Homo sapiens: one gene and its partner. The protein of the gene in region 1 interacts with the protein of each later gene in a pairwise test. Each region holds a gene or a part of one and is shown on either strand. Other genes may lie near its edges. The genes, in order: CTSC and PPDPF.

Region 1 (9,538 bases):
AGAAGAGTCACACTGTGGTCTACCCAAACCCTCTTACAGCCTGTGACTTCTGCAGAGTCAGTAAAAAATCAGCTATAATTTTCTTGTCAACAGAACAAAGATTAAGTCATTTGTTACTAAAGAAATACCTTTTTAACTGACTGTATAGCATTTCATAATCCTGAACATTGTAACTTTTTTTTTTTTTTTTTTGAGAATGGAGTCTTGCTCTGTCACCCAGGCTGTAGTTCAGTGGCGGGATCTCGGCTCACTGCAACCTCCGCCTCCCGGGTTTAAGCGATTCTCCTGCCTCAGTCTCCCGAGTAGCTAGGATTACGGGCACATGCCACCACGCCCGGCTAATATTTTGTATTTTTAGTAGAGACGGGTTTCACTGTGTTAGCCAGGATGGTCTCCATCTCCTGACCTCGTGATCCGCCCGCCTCGGCCTCCCAAAGTACTGGGATTACAGGCGGGAGTCACCACGCCTGGCCTTTTTTTTTTTTTTTTTTTTAAATTTGAGTTTGAAGGTTGGGGCAGAAAGAGATCAGGATTTGCACTGCCCTGTCACATGCAATCTCCCATGTCAGAGCATTACTCTCAAACATGGAAAAACTTTAAAATACACAACTCTCCAGATGGACACAGCTGAATCATTTTCAGGAAGGCTCTGCCTATAAAATTACCTTTGGCCTTAATTCAGTAATTAAAGGCACCCACAGGTCTGAGCCCTCATCTATGAAGGTTAAACGTATCATTCCTATCAGCACTAATTGGTTTTATAGGATACAGACCTCTAGTTTGCTGAATAAACTTTGGAAGGATTCAGATTATGAGGTTCTAAACTGTAGAGCCTTTGAGGAGAAAGGTACCCCATTTCTTCTCCGAATAGATCATTTTGTGTCTTCTCCTGGGCTTAGCACATTGTCTTCCTTAGGATCTGATAGTCTGTTTATTTATCTTTTTGTTGTCATACCTTTTATTCTTGCATTTCCCACTTTTGACTAGCATTTTGCCTTTTCTCCGTTTCTGGAAGCCTGTAATTTTCAACATTCCCCATTTCTCCTTTTGTTCAGTGGAAAAATTTCTTCAGTGTTGGGATGCTCTGGAAAGGTACTGTAGTTTTGGGGGTCTCCCTGCCTGCTGGGCTGCATAGCATATCTCTCTTTTTTGAGACAAGGTCTCACTGTGTTGCCCAGGTTGGAATGCAGTTGTGCAATCATAGCTCACTGCAGCCTCCAACTCCTGGGCTCAAGCAATCCTTCCACCTCAGCTTCAGCCGCTCAAATAGCTGGGACTACAGGCAATGCACCACCATAACCAGCGAATTTTTAAAAATTATTTTTGTAGAGACAGGGTCTCACTATGTTGCCCAAACTAGTCTTGAAGTTCTGACCTCAGCCCCGCAAAGTGCTAGGATTACAGGCGTGAGCCACTGCTTCTGCTTGCATTATCTCAAATTTTTAGAGCCTAACTTCACAGTCTTGCCTCGGAGCAGGAACTGTTTGAGGCAACAAGATGGAGCCTCTGGTTTCTTCACTAGGCAGACTGTGCTCAAACTGGGTAGCATGAAAGGAAAGCAGCACAATTAAAATTGAAATTGGGGGATTCTTTCCCCTATTGAAATCCAAATAATTTTCCTTTATTGTGCTTTTTTTTTTTTTCTTTAGGACCACAAGAAAAAAAAGTAGTGGTGTACCTTCAGAAGCTGGATACAGCATATGATGACCTTGGCAATTCTGGCCATTTCACCATCATTTACAACCAAGGCTTTGAGATTGTGTTGAATGACTACAAGTGGTTTGCCTTTTTTAAGGTTAGTTTTGTTGGAAGTTGGATTTACATTTTCAATGATTTGATATCTGAAACCTCTTCTGATTAGTAGACCCTCAGAATTTTAATTTTAGATTAAGAAGATGACCGGAATTGACACCACTCTTCCCAAGAGTAGTAGTAGTTGGTATAATTTTGCCACTTTATTTAAAATTATGATTTTAGTAGGTTTACAAAATACCAGTGCTACATTTGAATATGTATAAATTATGTTTAAAATTTACATTTTGGTAAGTATGACTAAATTCTTAATTTATTTTCCTTATTACTACCACTTTATTTCTAAATGTTGCCATAGTCATTTGGCTTTGTTCTAAATCTGTAGGAAAGATAGAGAGATTACACATTTTGTTTTCTTGCAGTTACTATGCTGTCCTTCCTATCACTACCTGTTGGCTGAGGTAGTGATAGGCCTAAATGATTCATTATCTTAAATGTACTAAATATGTTGAGTAATTTTTTCTTCTAAACTAACAGAAAGAGAGAACCTAGGAGTTACTCCCTTAGGCTGGTTAAAGTGAAAGGTAGCCAAGTCAACCCAGCTTGTTTCCTTCTCTCATTAGGAAAGAACTATTGTTCATTCTCATAACACACTTTTTCCAATTGCAAACATACTCAGGGTTAAAATAGTTTAGCACAAATTGCAGCCCATTTCATTTGTTCTTCACAAGCTGGAACTTTTCTTGTAAGCTAAATATTAAATGGTTCAAGTAAATTGGATACATAAGCCTGAAACTAGGCGTTTCTCATTATACATAGAGTATAAATTAAGACAGACTTTTTCATGGTGAAAGGTTTACAGCCTTTAAAACATCTGGGAAGAAGTGGGAAAGTAGGGAATAACTCTGTTAAATATGATAAAAGACAAAGCACCAACAAAGGCCTAGTTCTAAACTTGTTATAATTTCTCATGGGAGTTGTGGTTTGTCACAAGGTTATGGCGGTCCAAGCAAGTTTACAATATTTTTTAGAATAATAACTCCCAGAAATATTTTTAAAATAAGGACCTTTCTTTAATATGGAAAAAAAAAAGATGAAATAGAGAGGAAGAGGTTGCCTTTCCTCAACTGGATTTGCTGGTGTGATATGCAGCTGGTGGAAACCAGTTTGTCCATGCTAGCTGTTGATGGCCACCAGTCCACTGAATTAGTGGAAACCCATGCTTAACCAGTTGTTAACTATTTTTAGTATCATTTCCAGATGCTACGCATTTTTTTTGTAAAAAACATACTTACAATAGTATCTATATAAATTTTTAAAATTGTAATGTATATGTGGTATATTTAACCTGAAAATAATCTTTGGTGTATACGTTGATGAGCCTAGGCCTTTGCAGACCTCTTACAGTTACTCTGTCACAGCCCTTCAAAGGTTCTTTGACTTCAGATTAAGAATCAATTGCATGTGGAATGCATGTGCAAAGGAAGAGATATTCAAGGCAATTGTTACCATGTACCATAAACCTTGTACATAATTTTTTGTCATTTTCTTTTCCTCTGTCTCTATCCCTTCTTCTTTGACACACAATAGACACCTAGTCAATTTATTACAAAAAAAATGAATGAATGAAGTGGAATTCAGTTGGGAAATAGGTTAAATAAATTATTTAGGAGATGAGGAATAGGTAAAAAGAGACAAGTACATAGTTTATTCTTTTGACTTAGAAAACTTTTGATTCTTAAATTCTGCAGAATTGGAGAAACTGGTGGGGAAACTTCTAAAATCATTATTTAATTACCAGAGATGTAATAGATATAGACAAAAGCAGTTTTCTTCTTTTATTATTTTTTCATCAGTTAGTTCTTAGCTTAAATAGTAGTCCAAAGCTGGTAGGGACAGAGGGAATTAGCTGGTGGCTGAATGAGGAATTGTATCACTTTTTGTGAATCACGGTGTAAGCACATTTGGTGTTTTGCCATTGCCTAAGAACATTAGTCACATTAGGTCAATAGAAAATCACTTTTTAAAGCCAAATAAAGTTATATGTGTTCCCAACCATGAGTTGGAAAGAATTAATATATATGCTGTTGGAGGGTAGAACCCTGCCTAATCATATGGTTCTGGATGGCATTGATCGAATCCTTATTCTTTCATTAGGAATAACAATAGAAAAAATACTCCTGCCCTACTGATTTCAGGATATGTCTATTTTAAAGTGCCCATTTGACAAAACCATTATCAGGGCCATGTTTTCTTTTTCTGCAGAAAAATCAACCACTCTGGTCAGTAGTTAGGTCTTATGACAAGCACCATAATTTCCTTAGGCAGAGTAGAATATAATAGGATACTTCTTTTTGAAACTTAATATAATCAGGTAGTTCCAGATAAACATAGCTTGCAAAGTGATAAAATACCATGTTATTTTAGTAAATCCAATTGCAAGAGTGATGGGAAACAGAGTTTAAAAACTTAAGAAAGATATTAAGATGGAGTTGACTTTGAATAATAAAGTCATCCACTGTTGATGGGTGACATTTATTAATACAGAAAGTTTACAGATTTTACCATAAGCATCAGGGTATTTCCTGCAGCTGGGGAAACCGTGCTTGAAAGGATGCGTAACTCAAGGAAAACACAAGCCCATGTAATAAGTATTGCATGTGAGAATTGTTCCTATAGAATTAGAAAGCATCTTTTACATTAAAATTTATTTTTGTAAAAAGAGAAAACATCAAAACTTGAGTAGTATTTGCTATTCAAAGAGTCTTACATAAACGAAAACATACTCAACCTACTGCCATTACAGAAATATTTGACAAATTCTTGCCATGCTTACCTGCCATCGTTGTTGTTATCCTACAAATCAATTGGATTTTCACGCCTCTCCACTGACTGGAACCCTACAACTTGCTTCCTTTTATCCTCTTTATATATGCTTCAGATATGCTTGAAGTAGATTGTTTCTTATTGTTCTTGCTGCTCGAGTTTGTTGAGTAGTTGGTACATGCAGAGTATTTGTATGTTATGACATATATAGGTTTTGTCCATGGTTCCTGGCTCATAACTCACTCCCAAGACCCTTGTTACAGAAACCAGAATCTCTCTCTCTGATCTTCTCCTACCCTCCTTTCATCTGCCCACTGCAGAACTCTAATCTGATTATGGTTTCTAAGACCCTCATACCAGAGAGTATTCTGCCCCATACCATAGCAGAAGGAACACTGCACAGAGACACCAAGAAGAATCTGAACAGACAGGCCTTGTTAGGTTTAGATCATGTCCTTATAACCTAATTATATTTTAACATGGTTATCCATGCTTTAATCATGTGTATTCAATGAACGCTCCATAAAAGCCCAAGAAGAACAGATTTGAGGGAATTCTGAAGCGCTAAACATGTAGGGTCTGACAGGAAGGTGAAGAAGAACTCATCATGCTGGAAGGGTGGTCCACCCTAACTCCGCAGGGACAGAAGCTCCTGTGTCTGGGACCCTTCCAGAACTTGCTCTATGTATCTCTTCAAGTGCCTGTGTATTTATATCCTTTCAAATATCCTTTGTAATAAATCATAAACATGTTTCCCTGAGTTTTTATGCCACTCTGTCAAATTAATTGAACCCAAAGAGGGGGTTATGGGAACCCCAATTTGAAGCCAGTCCATCAGAAGTTCTGGAGGCCTGGACTTGAGACTGGTGTCTAAAGTGGGCAGGCAGTCTTGGGGACTAAGCCCTCAACCTACGGGATCTGAAACTGTCTCCTGGTAGGTAGCATTGGAGTTGTACTGGAGGGCACTGAGCTGGTGTCTGCTGCAGAATTGATTGCTTGCTTGCTGGTGGGGAGAACTTCCTACATATTTTGGGGTCACCGAAGTCTTTTGTATTGATTGTTGTTGCTGACTGAGAATAGGAAAAAGCACGTTGAGTAGTTTTTCCACACCACAGCATTCTTTTAGGCTCCTGCTTTTACCTTCTGCTTCCCTCAGCATCCTGCATCTCACCAGGAGAGACACAGCTTCTTTGCCATTCTCGGCATTCCACTTCGGAATCAATCAGAATAGCTCCTATTGCTAGAAACTTGCTTTATTAAGTTCTGTTTATTCAGGGCTTATCTGAAAGAGAAACATTTTTTATGATTTGAGATTTCTAAGCCATTTTAAAACTTGGTTTTAACAGCTTGAGAAATTGGGGGTATAGTAGGGATGGAGATACATATATTTGGATGTGACTTCAAGCTAGATAAAAGTTTGGAAGGAATAAAAGTTTGACATCTAAAGTTTTTGCATAGTTTGAGTTGAGCAGGAGGTACTAGGTATGTTTTTAAAATATTTTTTTCAGCCAGGCACGGTGACTCATACCTGTAATCCCAGCACTTTGGGAGGCCGAGACAGGCGATCACCTGAGGTCAGGCGTTCGAGACCAGTCTGGCCAACATGAAGAAACCCCGTCTCTACTAAAAATACAAAAATTAGCTGGGTGCGGTGACACATGCCTGTAATCCCAGCTATTCAGGAGGCTGAGGCAGGAGAATTGCTTGAACCCAGGAGGCAGAGGTTGCAGTGAGCCGAGATCACACCATTGCACTCCAGCCTGGGTGTCTCAAAATAATAATAATAATAAAAAAATGAAAGATTTTTTCTTACTCAGCATCCTCCAGGCATTTTATTATCTGAGCACTTTATGGGAGTTGCATATTACATTTAGGGCCCACTCAGGTGGGTGGGTATCTAAGCATTTGAAATAACCTTATGTAAACTAATAAGGAGTAATCAGGCCTGTGGCAAGATGGAAACAGTCTTAGAGGCATTCAAATTCAAATTTCCTTTAAAACACTGGGCTGGCCAAAACAAAAGACAATACTATCTACAGGCCAGTTTCTAAGATTATCAGATTTTAGTAGCATTTACCATTTCATTGTACTTGGCACACTTTAGCAAATTTGCACTTCTTAAAAGTACCTGCAGGCAATCTCCTATATAAAAACACAATGCAGGCTAGCTTGGCTCCTGCCTTTAATTCCAGCACTTTGAGAAGTTGGAGACTAGCGTGGCCAACGTGGTGAAACCTCATCTCCACTAAAAATACAAAAATTAGCCAGGCATAGCAGCGCACGCCTGTAGTCCCAGTTACTTGGGAGGCCGAGGCAGTAGAATCACTTGAACGCTGGAGACAGAGCATGGAGTGAGCTGAGATTGCACCACTGCACTCCATCCTGGGTGACAGCGTGAGACTCTGTCTCCAAACAAAACAAAACACACACACACACAATGTAACAACACGAAACAGAATACTGTGAAAATGCTTAATTATGTCTGACTTTACATGATGGCTGGATATGTGATTATTTTTTCTTCTTTATGCTCTTATGTACTTTGTTCATTTTTAATGATGATCATGTATAAAGCTCCTCTGTGTAGCATTCTCTCCACCAAATTGCCCAGAGACAGGAAGTCCTGTAAAACAAACTAAGCTCCAAAAAATGACCTCCTGTTGAATAGGCTTTTTTTTTTTTTTTTTTTTTTTTTTTTGAAATGGAGTCTAGCTCTGTCTCCCAGGCCCTCGCTCCTTCCACCTCCTGGGTTTAAGAGATTGTCCTTCCTCAGCCTCCAGAGTAGATTGGATTACAGGTGCCCGCCATCACGCCCAGCTAATTTTTGTATTTTTAGTAGAGATGGGGTTTCACCATGTTGACCAGACTGGTCTTGAACTCCTGACCCCAAGTGATCCGCCCGCCTGGACCTCCCCAAGTGCTGGGATTACAGGTGTGAGCCACCACGCCCAGCCTGAATAGGCTTTCTAACCTACTGTTTCTCATTTTACTTTCTCTGAGGCAGTAAAAGAAACTGACTCTAAAAGGGAGCAGTAGAGAAGGAACTCAGATTTTATTTTGAAGATTAAGCTACTCAAGGGCTGAGGAAATATGTAGAGGGGAAGTAGACTCATTATGGCTGGAAATTTTATTTGGTGATAGTGAAGCAAATCTTAGGGCTTTCTAATTGAGCTCTTGTTTGAAAGGCTCCAATCTTAATAGAACTATAAGCTAAAAAAAATGACCATCAGTGTTTCTAAAGCAAGTTGCTACTCAAAACAAGAACACTTTGGGAGGCTGGGGCTGGTGGATCACCTGAGGTCAGAAGATGGAGTCCAGCCTCAACATGGTGAAACCCCTCTATACTAAAAATACAAAAAGTAGCCGGGTGTGGTGGTGCACGCCTATAGTCTCAGCCACCTGGGAGGCTGGGGCAGAAGAATCGCTTGAACCCGGGAGGTGGAGGTTGCAGTGAGCTGACATTGTGCCACTGCATTTCAGCCTGGGTGACAGAGTGAGACTCTGTCTCAAAAACAAAACAAACAGAAACAAGAACTCTATGTTGAGAAATCCATACTAGAGGGTTTAATTTCTCACTTTGTGTGCTAGTGATTAATAAATTTCAAGCTTATCACACAGCCAGAAATGTCGCCTGTGTTTCTACAATAAAAGATTTGGGAATATTGTGACATTTTTTCACTGAGCCTTCTGGGTTCATTATTAAGATATAACAATTTTAGAAGACTTATTGAGATAGGTATACTTTTTAAAATTTGGATTCAATATATCAAGCTCAGCATTTTGTCTTTTTTTTGTTTTGTTTTAAACAACTTTGGGTTTACTTGTAAGAGTATTTCAGTGGAGGAAAAGTATCAGAAGTTTAGCACTGAGTGCCTGCCTAACTATTTTATGTCTTCTTTCATGATGATGCTTAATCTCAACATAATGACTCAGTTTACCATTGTAAACTCTTTGTAGGATGTCACTGATTTTATCAGTCATTTGTTCATGCAGCTGGGAACTGTGGGGATATATGATTTGCCACATCTGAGGAACAAACTGGGTGAGCTCCATTGAAAAATTTCTAACTTTCTTATTAAAAGCAAGCTTCCTCACTTCCTGATGGCTTATGCAAATTAATGCCTATTTATTCATCAGAGGGTGACTGGAGAGATTATGGTTTTCTTATGAATTTCTTGCTTGAGCCTGCTTGTCTGCTGTTTCTAAGTTGTCTGCACTATTTTATGTGAGTAATTTTCTACTTTATTATGTTCTGTTTTCACATGTCAAATCAGCTCTCCCAAGAATGCTACTTGTAACCTAAGTAGACGTGAACCGAAAAGGGTAAAGACCCAGCTAAAAAAAAGGTTGACTCAAGTTCAGTTCACATTCGTAAAGTAGTTAGGCTGCCTTAGGTTGCTTATTCTTTTCTTGAAAAGAATCCCTCAAGAGAGAAACATGTGAGGCCACAGCAGCTTAGATCTGTCTTCCACAGAGAAGGTGGCTTTTACAGAGAAATTGACATACTCATCACTTATCTGACATGACCCAGCTTTGTAAAACTGGCTTCTATTAAAATAGTCTTAATAGACTATTCACTGAGGAGGAGAGAATCTTATTCACTCTTTACATTCTCTTCACATTTTCAGAATAGATGTTTAAATCATTGCTCACACTGGATCCATAAATGTCTAAAATGTTGATGAAGAAATAGGTGATTAGAGAGTAAAATTAATAGAGACTTACCCTTCCTTGCATTTTAACATAATATTCTTTCCCCTTTTCCTTCCTCTGTTACTTGGCTCTTAAATACCAGAAGTGAGATATGAAAAAGGGAACTGGGAACAAGTATTGAAAGCACCATAGGTTTATCTTATATTAGCATTTTCCAAACTTTATAATGAACCAGCAGTGACCCACACATCTGCCAGGTAGGAATTGCTCATCAGTTGTGTCGCGTTATCTTGTTAAGCTTCAGCAA
Region 2 (8,384 bases), on another chromosome or scaffold:
TCCAATAGATGGCTTTTTTGTTGTTGTTATTGTTTTTGTTTTTTGAGACAGGGTCTCACTGTGTCACCCAGGCTGGAGTGCAGTGGCATGATCTCGGCTCACTGCAACCTCCACCTCCTGGGTTCAAGCAATCCTGCCTAAGTCTCCTGAGTAGCTGGGACTACTGGCACGCACCACCACACCTAGCATGTTTTTTGTTTGTTTGTTTGTTTTTTAGTACAGATGGGGTTTCACCACCTTGGCCAGGCGGGTCTTGAACTCATGACTTCCAGTGATCCACCCGCCTTGGCCTCCCAAAGTGCTGGGATTACAGTTGTGAGCCACCGCGCCCGGCCGGTAAATGTTGATAATAGGAGTAGGAGTGGATGCGCTCGTCCTGCTCTCAGTCCTGGGAAAAGGATTCTCTCACCTCAGTACAGCACTGGCTGTAAATACTTCATCAGAGCTCTTTCTTAGATTGAAGTTGTTTTCTGTTCCTGCTTTGCCGAGATGTTCACCGTGAACGCACACTAAATGTTGTCCAATGCTCGCTCACTGTCCATCGCTTGATGTAAGGGGCTTACAACTGCAGGTTGGTGCATTTTTACAAATCCCAGCACCTGTGCCATCTCAGTGTTAGCATTTGCTGACTGTTTTTTTCCATTTATTTGTTTTTTCGGGGTTTTTTTGAGATGGAGTTCACTCTTGTTGCCCAGGCTGGAGTGCAATGGCGCAATCTCAGCTCACTGCAACCTCCACCTCCAGGTTTCAAGCAATTCTCCCGCCTCAGCCTCCTGAGTAGTTGGGATTACAGGCATGCACCACCACGCCTGGCTAATTTTGTATTATTATTATTATTTTTTTTGGAGATGGAGTCTTGCTCTGTCGCCCAGGCTGGAATGGTGTGATCTCAGCTCACTGCAACCTCCACCTCCCAGGTTCAAGAGATTCTCCTGCCTCAGCCTCCCAAGTAGCTGGGATTACAGGTGCCCGACACCATGCCCGGCTAATTTTTGTATTTTTAGTAGAGATGGGATTTTGCCATATTGGTCAGGCTGGTCTCAAACTCCTGACTTCAGGTGATCTGCCTGCCTCAGCCTCCCAAAGTGCTGGGATTACAGGCATGAGCCACCATGCCCAGCAACTGAGATTTTCCTGGTTCACTTATGCCAAGTAATTTTGGATTTTATCCTAAAGTGTAGGGTTTTATTCTTTTTTTTTTTTTTTTTTTTGAGGCGGAGTCTCGCTCTGTCACCCAGGCTGGAGTGCAGTGGCGCGATCTTGGCTCACCGCAAGCTCCACCTCCTGGGTTCACACCATTCTCCTGCCTCAGCCTCCCAGGTAGCTGGGACTACAGGCGCCCGCCACCACGCCCGGCTAATTTTTTTGTAATTTTTTAGTGGAGATGGGTTTTCACCATGTTAGCCAGGATGGTCTCGATCTCCTGACCTCGTGATCCGCCCACCTCGGCCTCTCAAAGTGCTGGGATTACAGGCGTGAGCCACCGTGCCCGGCCTCGTTTTCCATTTAAGTTGAGATTTTCCTGGTTCAGTTATGCCAAGTAATTTTGGATTTTATCCTAAGTCCAGGGTTTTATTCTTTTTAGAGATGGGGTCTCTCTCTGTCACCCAGGCTGGAGAGCAGGTGCCATCGTAATTCACTGCAGCTTCCAGCTCCTGGGCTCCAGTGACCCTCCTGCCTCAGCTTCCTGAGTGGCTGGGACCACAGCGCGTGGCTCTTTGATGAATAAACACTCCTTGGTTTGCTGTTTGCCTTTGGTTAAATTCCAAAGCACTGACATGGTTGTTTCTGACTTTTGTTTAGATTTACAGGTACATTTTGGAGAGAGGGTTTGTTGACCTCCTCACCCCTCCACTCTGGAAATCTTTAATATATTTTATTATGCAATTCAACCTTCCATCCAATATACATACTGGACGCCTGCCTCCTGCATGGCTGGCTCTGCCTCAGCCACTGGGACCCAGGGTGAACAGATACACCACCTTCTCCCACAGTGCTTGTGTAACCACCAAGCCAATGTCCTGAGTTACTTCCAACAGTGAAAGGTACAGGGATTAATAAGGAACTTTCGCTGAGCACCTGCCCCGTGCCAGATACTGGTCCAAGCACCTGCAGGAAGCATCTTACCCTCAAGGTGGCCACAGGAGTTAGCTATGCCCGTCTCACGCGCAGGGACACTGAGGAACAGGCAGCCTTGGCTGCTGCCCCCCGGACTTCACCTGCCACATCAGGTGCCGCCGGCATAGCAGGCCTTCATCAAATATTAGTCAGCACTTCTGTTTTCTTCTGCAGGTGGTGACACCATCTAAGAGGCACTGGCCAGAGAGCTGGGCAGCAGCTGCCACCTGGGATGAAGATGGGCAGAGCTGGGCCACCAGGGCCGTGGTGTGAACACACCACTCTCCCTCCAGGGGCCGACCAACGAGCTCCGGGGGTCCAACCCTGGCTCCGGCTTTGGCAGAACTCTCACCTCGCCCCCAGACACCTGTGGGAGGAGCACAGTGCAGGTGGCGACAGCTCCCAGGGGCCGAGCAAGGCTGTGAGCCTCCGCACTAGGGGCCTCTCCCATCTAGTCCTCCCCACACGCTGGGGTTAACGCATTCTTAACATATGTATGTTAACCCAACCATAACAAGGTGCCACCATCGTCCCGTCCACAAGGGAGGAGACAGTGGCTACAGGGTGGCAGGCAGCCCTTACAAGTGGGACTGGAAGCCTTTCCCTCCCGCCCTGTGGGAAGCCTGTGGCCGTCCCCGCCCTCGTCCAGCTGTGCCCTGTCCTCTCCAGCTGACCGTCCCCGTCAATCTCATCCCTGCCAATGATCACATCCTAGCAGCAACCGGGCCTGAACCGGCCTGCTATAGCTTGCGCACAATGCATCTTCCGTCCGCTTAGCTTTTCTGCCCCCATTTCCTACAGCCGGGGAGGCTCGGGTGCAGTGTCTCTCCTCGCTCCTGCTTCCTGACCCAGAGCCCAGACCTGGGACTTCCCAAAAGCCCCCAGACACACCAAGGGCACCGCCGAACCCCTCAGAGCCAAGGGAGAGGAGAGCTAGCGTTCCCTGAGCTCACCTTGCCTGGTGGCACGGGTCCCCTCTGTCTGCGGCCACTGTCATGGGAGAAGCCAGGCTCAGCCACTGGCAAGAGCAGGCAGCCAGCAAGAGGTGGATGTGGGTCCAAGCCCAGGCCACACGGCTCCCAGCAAGAGCCATGGCCAGGGGCCAGTCGGCAGCCCCTCTGCCCGACAAGGATGTGGGCCAGCGTCGTCTGCACTTCAGAGGAGACGAGAACCAGGAGGCGGCCCCCGAGGGCATCCCGCGGGTCCTCACGGAGGCTGCGTTCTCCCACCTTGGCCAGGATGCCCCGGGAACACCATGCAGCGTCTCTGAGGCTTCCTGTGCAGAGGGGCTCACAGAGCCCCCACCGGCCTGGTTTAGTAAATGCAGTTTTTACCTTTTCACTTTAAAGGAAAATGAAAATTCCTCCTTTCAGACGCTCTGTGACTGATGTTGACCGGTGTTGACTGGTGAGGTTGAGAATGAGGTGAGCTGGGTCAGGCCAGCCTAGAGGGAAGCGGGTGACCTGGAAGGCCGTGCTGTCAGGCGTGGTCGGCAGTCGGCCCCACGGCTCCTTCAGGGTGGGCCTGGACCACAGACACCTCACCAGGGTCTCCCGTCCCTGGGCGGCTGCATATGGGTCCAAGCAAGCCACAAAGGCTGTGCCAGCCAAGCCCAACGCAGGCCGCCCCTACAGTCCCTGCCCGGCCCTGCACCCTCCCCACCCCTTCCCAGGTGCTGATCACCAGTACTCACTCTGCACCCCAAACCCCAAACCCCGTCTCAGCGTCTGCCCCTGAGGACCCTCTGAGTGTCAACCCAACTGACCCGTCTGCCTCATCAGTGACCCCTCGGGGCTGCACACCTCTCCCATCGCAGGTCCTGGCACTGCTCTCCGGCACCGAGCTCCCCCTCCCAGGTGGGGCTCAGGCGGTTCCCTGCCCTCCGTCCTTAGACCTCAGCTGAAACCTGAGCTCTCCCCACCACCCGCCCCCGCCAGCCTCTGCACTGCTCCCCACGGGAAGGCCGTTCTCCCTTGGTTTACCGTTCCCTGCGCTTGGCTCGGCCATGTGCACATAGTAGGTGCTTACCACACTCGTGCAATGAACACACAGAGCGGTGCAGGGCCCAGGACAGCGCCTTCCCCACGTGCTCAGGGGGCACAAGGGCGTCCCTCCAAGTCTTGCTCAGGGGCCTCCCAGGGTCCCTGCCCAGCTGTGGGTCCTCACTGAGCACCCGGCGAGGACAGAGTACGGCATCCGTTGGCCTCGATCTCCGGAACAACACGGGCACACGGCCGTCCCAGCCAGCAACGAGAGCCACGAAACAAATCCACCCGGGCTGACTCCCGAAGCCCTCGGACTGTTCCGCCCCACGGACCTCCCGGACCCTCTCTTCCACGGGGAAGACACCGCCCAGCCAGGACCGGGTGTATAAAGAAACGGGATTTCCGTAGGGGCAGGCCGATTTCCCCTGCGGGGCCGAGGGAGGTGTGGGGAGGATTCTGCGCTGGGGGGAGGAGGAGAGGGAGGACGCCTTTCTGCCTGGGAAGGGAAAACGCGCCCCCTCCTGATTGGCATGGCGGGCCGTCCCCCGGGCCCCAGGGCCCTGCCGGGAACGCTCTGGGCTCCCCAAACATGGGGTCTCCGAGCAGTGGGGCCCAGCCTCTGCCTCCGGCGACTGGAGACTCACCTCACCCGCCCAAATCCGCCCCGCTCTCCGACTGGGCCCCGCCTCCCACTGCCCCGCCATCCGCCCACCCTTTCACCGCCCCCTGCGGGCAGCAGGCGCGTCCTGGGGCTGGGCAACCGGGGTGCAGGTTCCGGAGCTGCCAGAGCTGTGAGGGGGACTCGGGAGAGATCCAGGTTCCTCTGGCTGCGAAGTCCCTGGAGGCCGGGCCGGAGGGCTCCGCGCACGTAGCACTTTTTGGCCCGCCCGGCGCCCCCGTCGCCTCCACAAGGGCTGAAGAGGACGGGCGGGCTGGACCAGGCGGGGCTCCGAGACGCGTCCGAGACGGGGGCCTGGGCCCGGGAGAGGGGCGGGGGCTGGGCTCCCGGACCCGGGCGCGGGGCCTTTTAACCCCTGCAGACCCAGGACCGGCCGGGCCGCCCCAAGACGAACGCCGCAGGGCTGGGCTCAGCCCAAGCCAGACGGCGAGAGTCGCACCGAGGTGGAAGCTGGGGGCGCGGCCTCGCCGGGGCCAGGAAAGGGGCGGGGCCGGGTGGGGCCCGGGGAGGAGCCTGTGCGCCCCGCCCTCCGTGACGCGCCGCGGCCCCCGCGCATATAAGTGGGCGCGTCCGCGCGTGCGCACCCCGCGCGCGCCTCTCTGTCGTGGCGCGGCTTCCCGCGGTCTTCTCTGCAAATGGGCTCCGTGGCCTAGCGCCCCCGTCCCCGCCACCCGTGATCGTGCGCCGAGGCCCGCGAGGGGTCGCCGCCCAGGTGAGGGGCGCCGCGCGCGGGTGGGACGAGCAGGCCCGAGGGGCGGGGGGCGAGGGGCGGGGCTGGGCCGGGGGCTCCTCTCCTCTCCGCCTGGCGAGCGCTGGGCTCGGGGTCCCCGGCGGGCTCCTCTCGGGTCGGGCGGGTTGGGACGGCGCCCACCAGGTTCCCGACGTCTGGGCCGGGGCCCCGCGCACAAAGCGCCTTTGTTCCACCCGCTCGGCCGGTTTGGGCTGGTTGGAGCCGCCCGCGCCCCGCGCGGCGAAGGCGGTGCCGGGAGCTGGGGAGCCCCGCCTCGGTAAATAACCCAGCGCGGCGGCTCCACCCGCTGGGGAGCGCCCTTCATGACGGAAGGCCGCTGACCCGAGGGGCTCCTCCACCCCCATGCGCAGATCCCACCAGCCAGCAAGCTAAAGCATGGCGGCCATCCCCTCCAGCGGCTCGCTCGTGGCCACCCACGACTACTACCGGCGTGAGTAGCCCCTGCCCCCCATCCACGCGGATGCTCTGCTGGCGCCAGTGCCGGCCCCGTGCAGGCTGCGGAACCAGCGCTCGGCCTGAAGGCCGGTGGGCTGGGGGGCTCCGCGCCCCGCGTTGCTGACGGGACCTCTCCTCTCCAGGCCGCCTGGGTTCCACTTCCAGCAACAGCTCCTGCAGCAGTACCGAGTGCCCCGGGGAAGCCATTCCCCACCCCCCAGGTGAGTGCAGGATCGCCCCTTTCTCCCCCCGCTCCTCCAGGAGCTGGCAGCATCAAGACCCCACTTCGCTTCTCTCAGGTCTCCCCAAGGCTGACCCGGGTCATTGGTGGGCCAGCTTCTTTTTCGGGAAGTCCACCCTCCCGTTCATGGCCACGGTGTTGGAGTCCGCAGAGCACTCGGAACCTCCCCAGGCCTCCAGCAGCATGACCGCCTGTGGCCTGGCTCGGGACGCCCCGAGGAAGCAGCCCGGCGGTCAGTCCAGCACAGCCAGCGCTGGGCCCCCGTCCTGACCTGAGCGGTTACCACCAGCCCCAGGCCTGCGGAGGCGCTAGTCCACCAGAGCCCCTCCCCGCCCCTCTCCCCACTCCGCATCCCTCGCCCCCCTCCCCACCTCCCACCCCCCACCCTGTAAACTAGGCGGCTGCAGCAAGCAGACCTTCGCATCAACACAGCAGACACCAAAAACCAGTGAGAGCCCCGCTCTCTACCGCCCGGCCCCAGCACTCGCTAGCTTTCCTGACACCTGGAACTGTGCACCTGGCACCAAGCGGAAAATAAACTCCAAGCAGCCAGTAGCCCCGATGGTGTGTGCCTGAGCTGTGTGGCCCGAGGTTCCATTTGAGTGTGAGAAATGGCTGAATCCCTCCCGACCTCACTGCCTTGTGGGGGCTGGCCCTGCTCCCAGGCCTTTCTGGGCCTCCTCACGCTGTGAGGCTGTTGCTGGGGCTGATAAGGGTGGGGTTCACTGCTGCTTCTGGAGAGCCTTGGACAGCAGGCAGTCCTGGAGCTGGACAAGCAGGACCCAGGGCAGCCACTGAGGTGGGCCCCCGTGCCACCTTTAGCGGGGGGAAAGGGAGCAGGGAGGGCTGGTCCTCTGAGGGATTCAGGCCCCTTACCCGAGGGCCTGCGGGGCGGGGAGTAGCCTCTGGCTGTGAGCTGGGAAGCCCTCACTCTGGAGGGACCTGGTTCCTGCTGGTAGGTGTCTCCCAAGGGCCTCCCATAGGGGTGTTGCCCCAAGACAGGCTGAGGGGTAGGGGCTGCAGGCACCGTGGAGGGGTCTTCCTGCCACAGGCAGCCCAGCTTAAAGTGAGGGTGGCTGCATCATTCTGGCCTGGTATAGGCATGGAGTGTTGGAGTCCGGGAGTGCTGCAGGCTGGCAGGGATGGGGGTCCACACACAGGAGTGCATGGGCTGTGAGCTTAGTAGACTCCTTCATAACCAAGGTGGGTGGTGTCCCCACACCTCTGCCAGGAGCCTACAGGGATTGACTCAGTTCTGTTGAGAGGCAGCTTAGTGAGCAGGTGGGAGTCAGTGAGATAGCTGGAGACTTGATGTGTGGCCAGGGACATGGTGAGAGGAGGGGCCTCCGTGGGGTGGGAAAGGGTGGGGTTCAGTGGTGGGGGAGGGACTCTGGGGAGGGGTGGGGATCAGTGGGTGCTCCCTGCCTGGTACCCTGTTCCACTGCACTATAAATAGCTGTACTAGTTGGTGGGAAGCTGGTGGGAAGGCATCTGGCTTGTGGCCTCTGATGGCTGAGCCTTTGTCCTGTCCACAGGGTGGAGGCAGCCTCACCCAGCCATCCAAGCCGGTGGTCAGTGCTGAGGCTGGGTGGGGGAGCCTCCGATGGACCCAGGAGTGGGAGGCTGCTCCTAATGGCAGTTGAGCCCCCTGCAGCCTTTTGCAGTGTCCAGATGAAGCCCACAGAGACCCTCCTCCATGTACACACAGCTGTGAGGGTAGCAGGAGTTGGTGTTGAAGGGAGAGCCCAGCCACGCTCAGGTCCCCACCACACATGGCCTGGGGGGGCTCCGCCCTTGGCTGAGCTGGAGGGCTTGGGGTCAGGACCAAGGGTGGGTCCACCCTGCTTGGAAAGAAGCTGTCCTGGCTTTTGGAGTCAGCGGGGGAGGGGCACTGCCCGGGAGCTGGTGTCTTGTTGGAAGGGGCAGCTGGGAGTAGGGAGCAGCCGAGCCACAGGCTGCCCGCGGCATCGTCCCCTGCCTCGGGTCAGGGGGCCCCTTGACTGGAGGACCTCACAACCCTGGGGGTGTCCATGGCCTGTTCCTGGGAGCTGCACCCTCATCAGATTCTCTGTAGGGGGAGAAGTCATATCTTTTCCTCACCCATCACAAGCTTCATGGCTGAGACCTGTTAGAAACAAAATGCTTCCTCGGTGCCACAAAGAAATAGCACTCAAA

The links.
Region 2: the proteins of CTSC (region 1) and PPDPF interact in a two-hybrid assay, tested with the Homo sapiens proteins (one study listed by BioGRID).

Annotation. Positions count from the first base shown.
Region 1 is NC_000011.10:88,327,194-88,336,731, reverse strand, and holds part of CTSC (dipeptidyl peptidase 1 isoform a preproprotein), read left to right. Parts: intron 1-1,649; coding exon 1,650-1,795; intron 1,796-8,535; coding exon of another isoform or gene 8,536-8,620; intron 8,621-9,538. UniProt on the Homo sapiens protein: Thiol protease. Has dipeptidylpeptidase activity. Active against a broad range of dipeptide substrates composed of both polar and hydrophobic amino acids. Proline cannot occupy the P1 position and arginine cannot occupy the P2 position of the substrate.
Region 2 is NC_000020.11:63,515,401-63,523,784, forward strand, and holds PPDPF (pancreatic progenitor cell differentiation and proliferation factor), read left to right. Parts: upstream 1-5,364; 5' UTR 5,365-5,494; intron 5,495-5,883; 5' UTR 5,884-5,908; coding exon 5,909-5,963; intron 5,964-6,111; coding exon 6,112-6,189; intron 6,190-6,267; coding exon 6,268-6,479; 3' UTR 6,480-6,806; downstream 6,807-8,384. UniProt on the Homo sapiens protein: Probable regulator of exocrine pancreas development.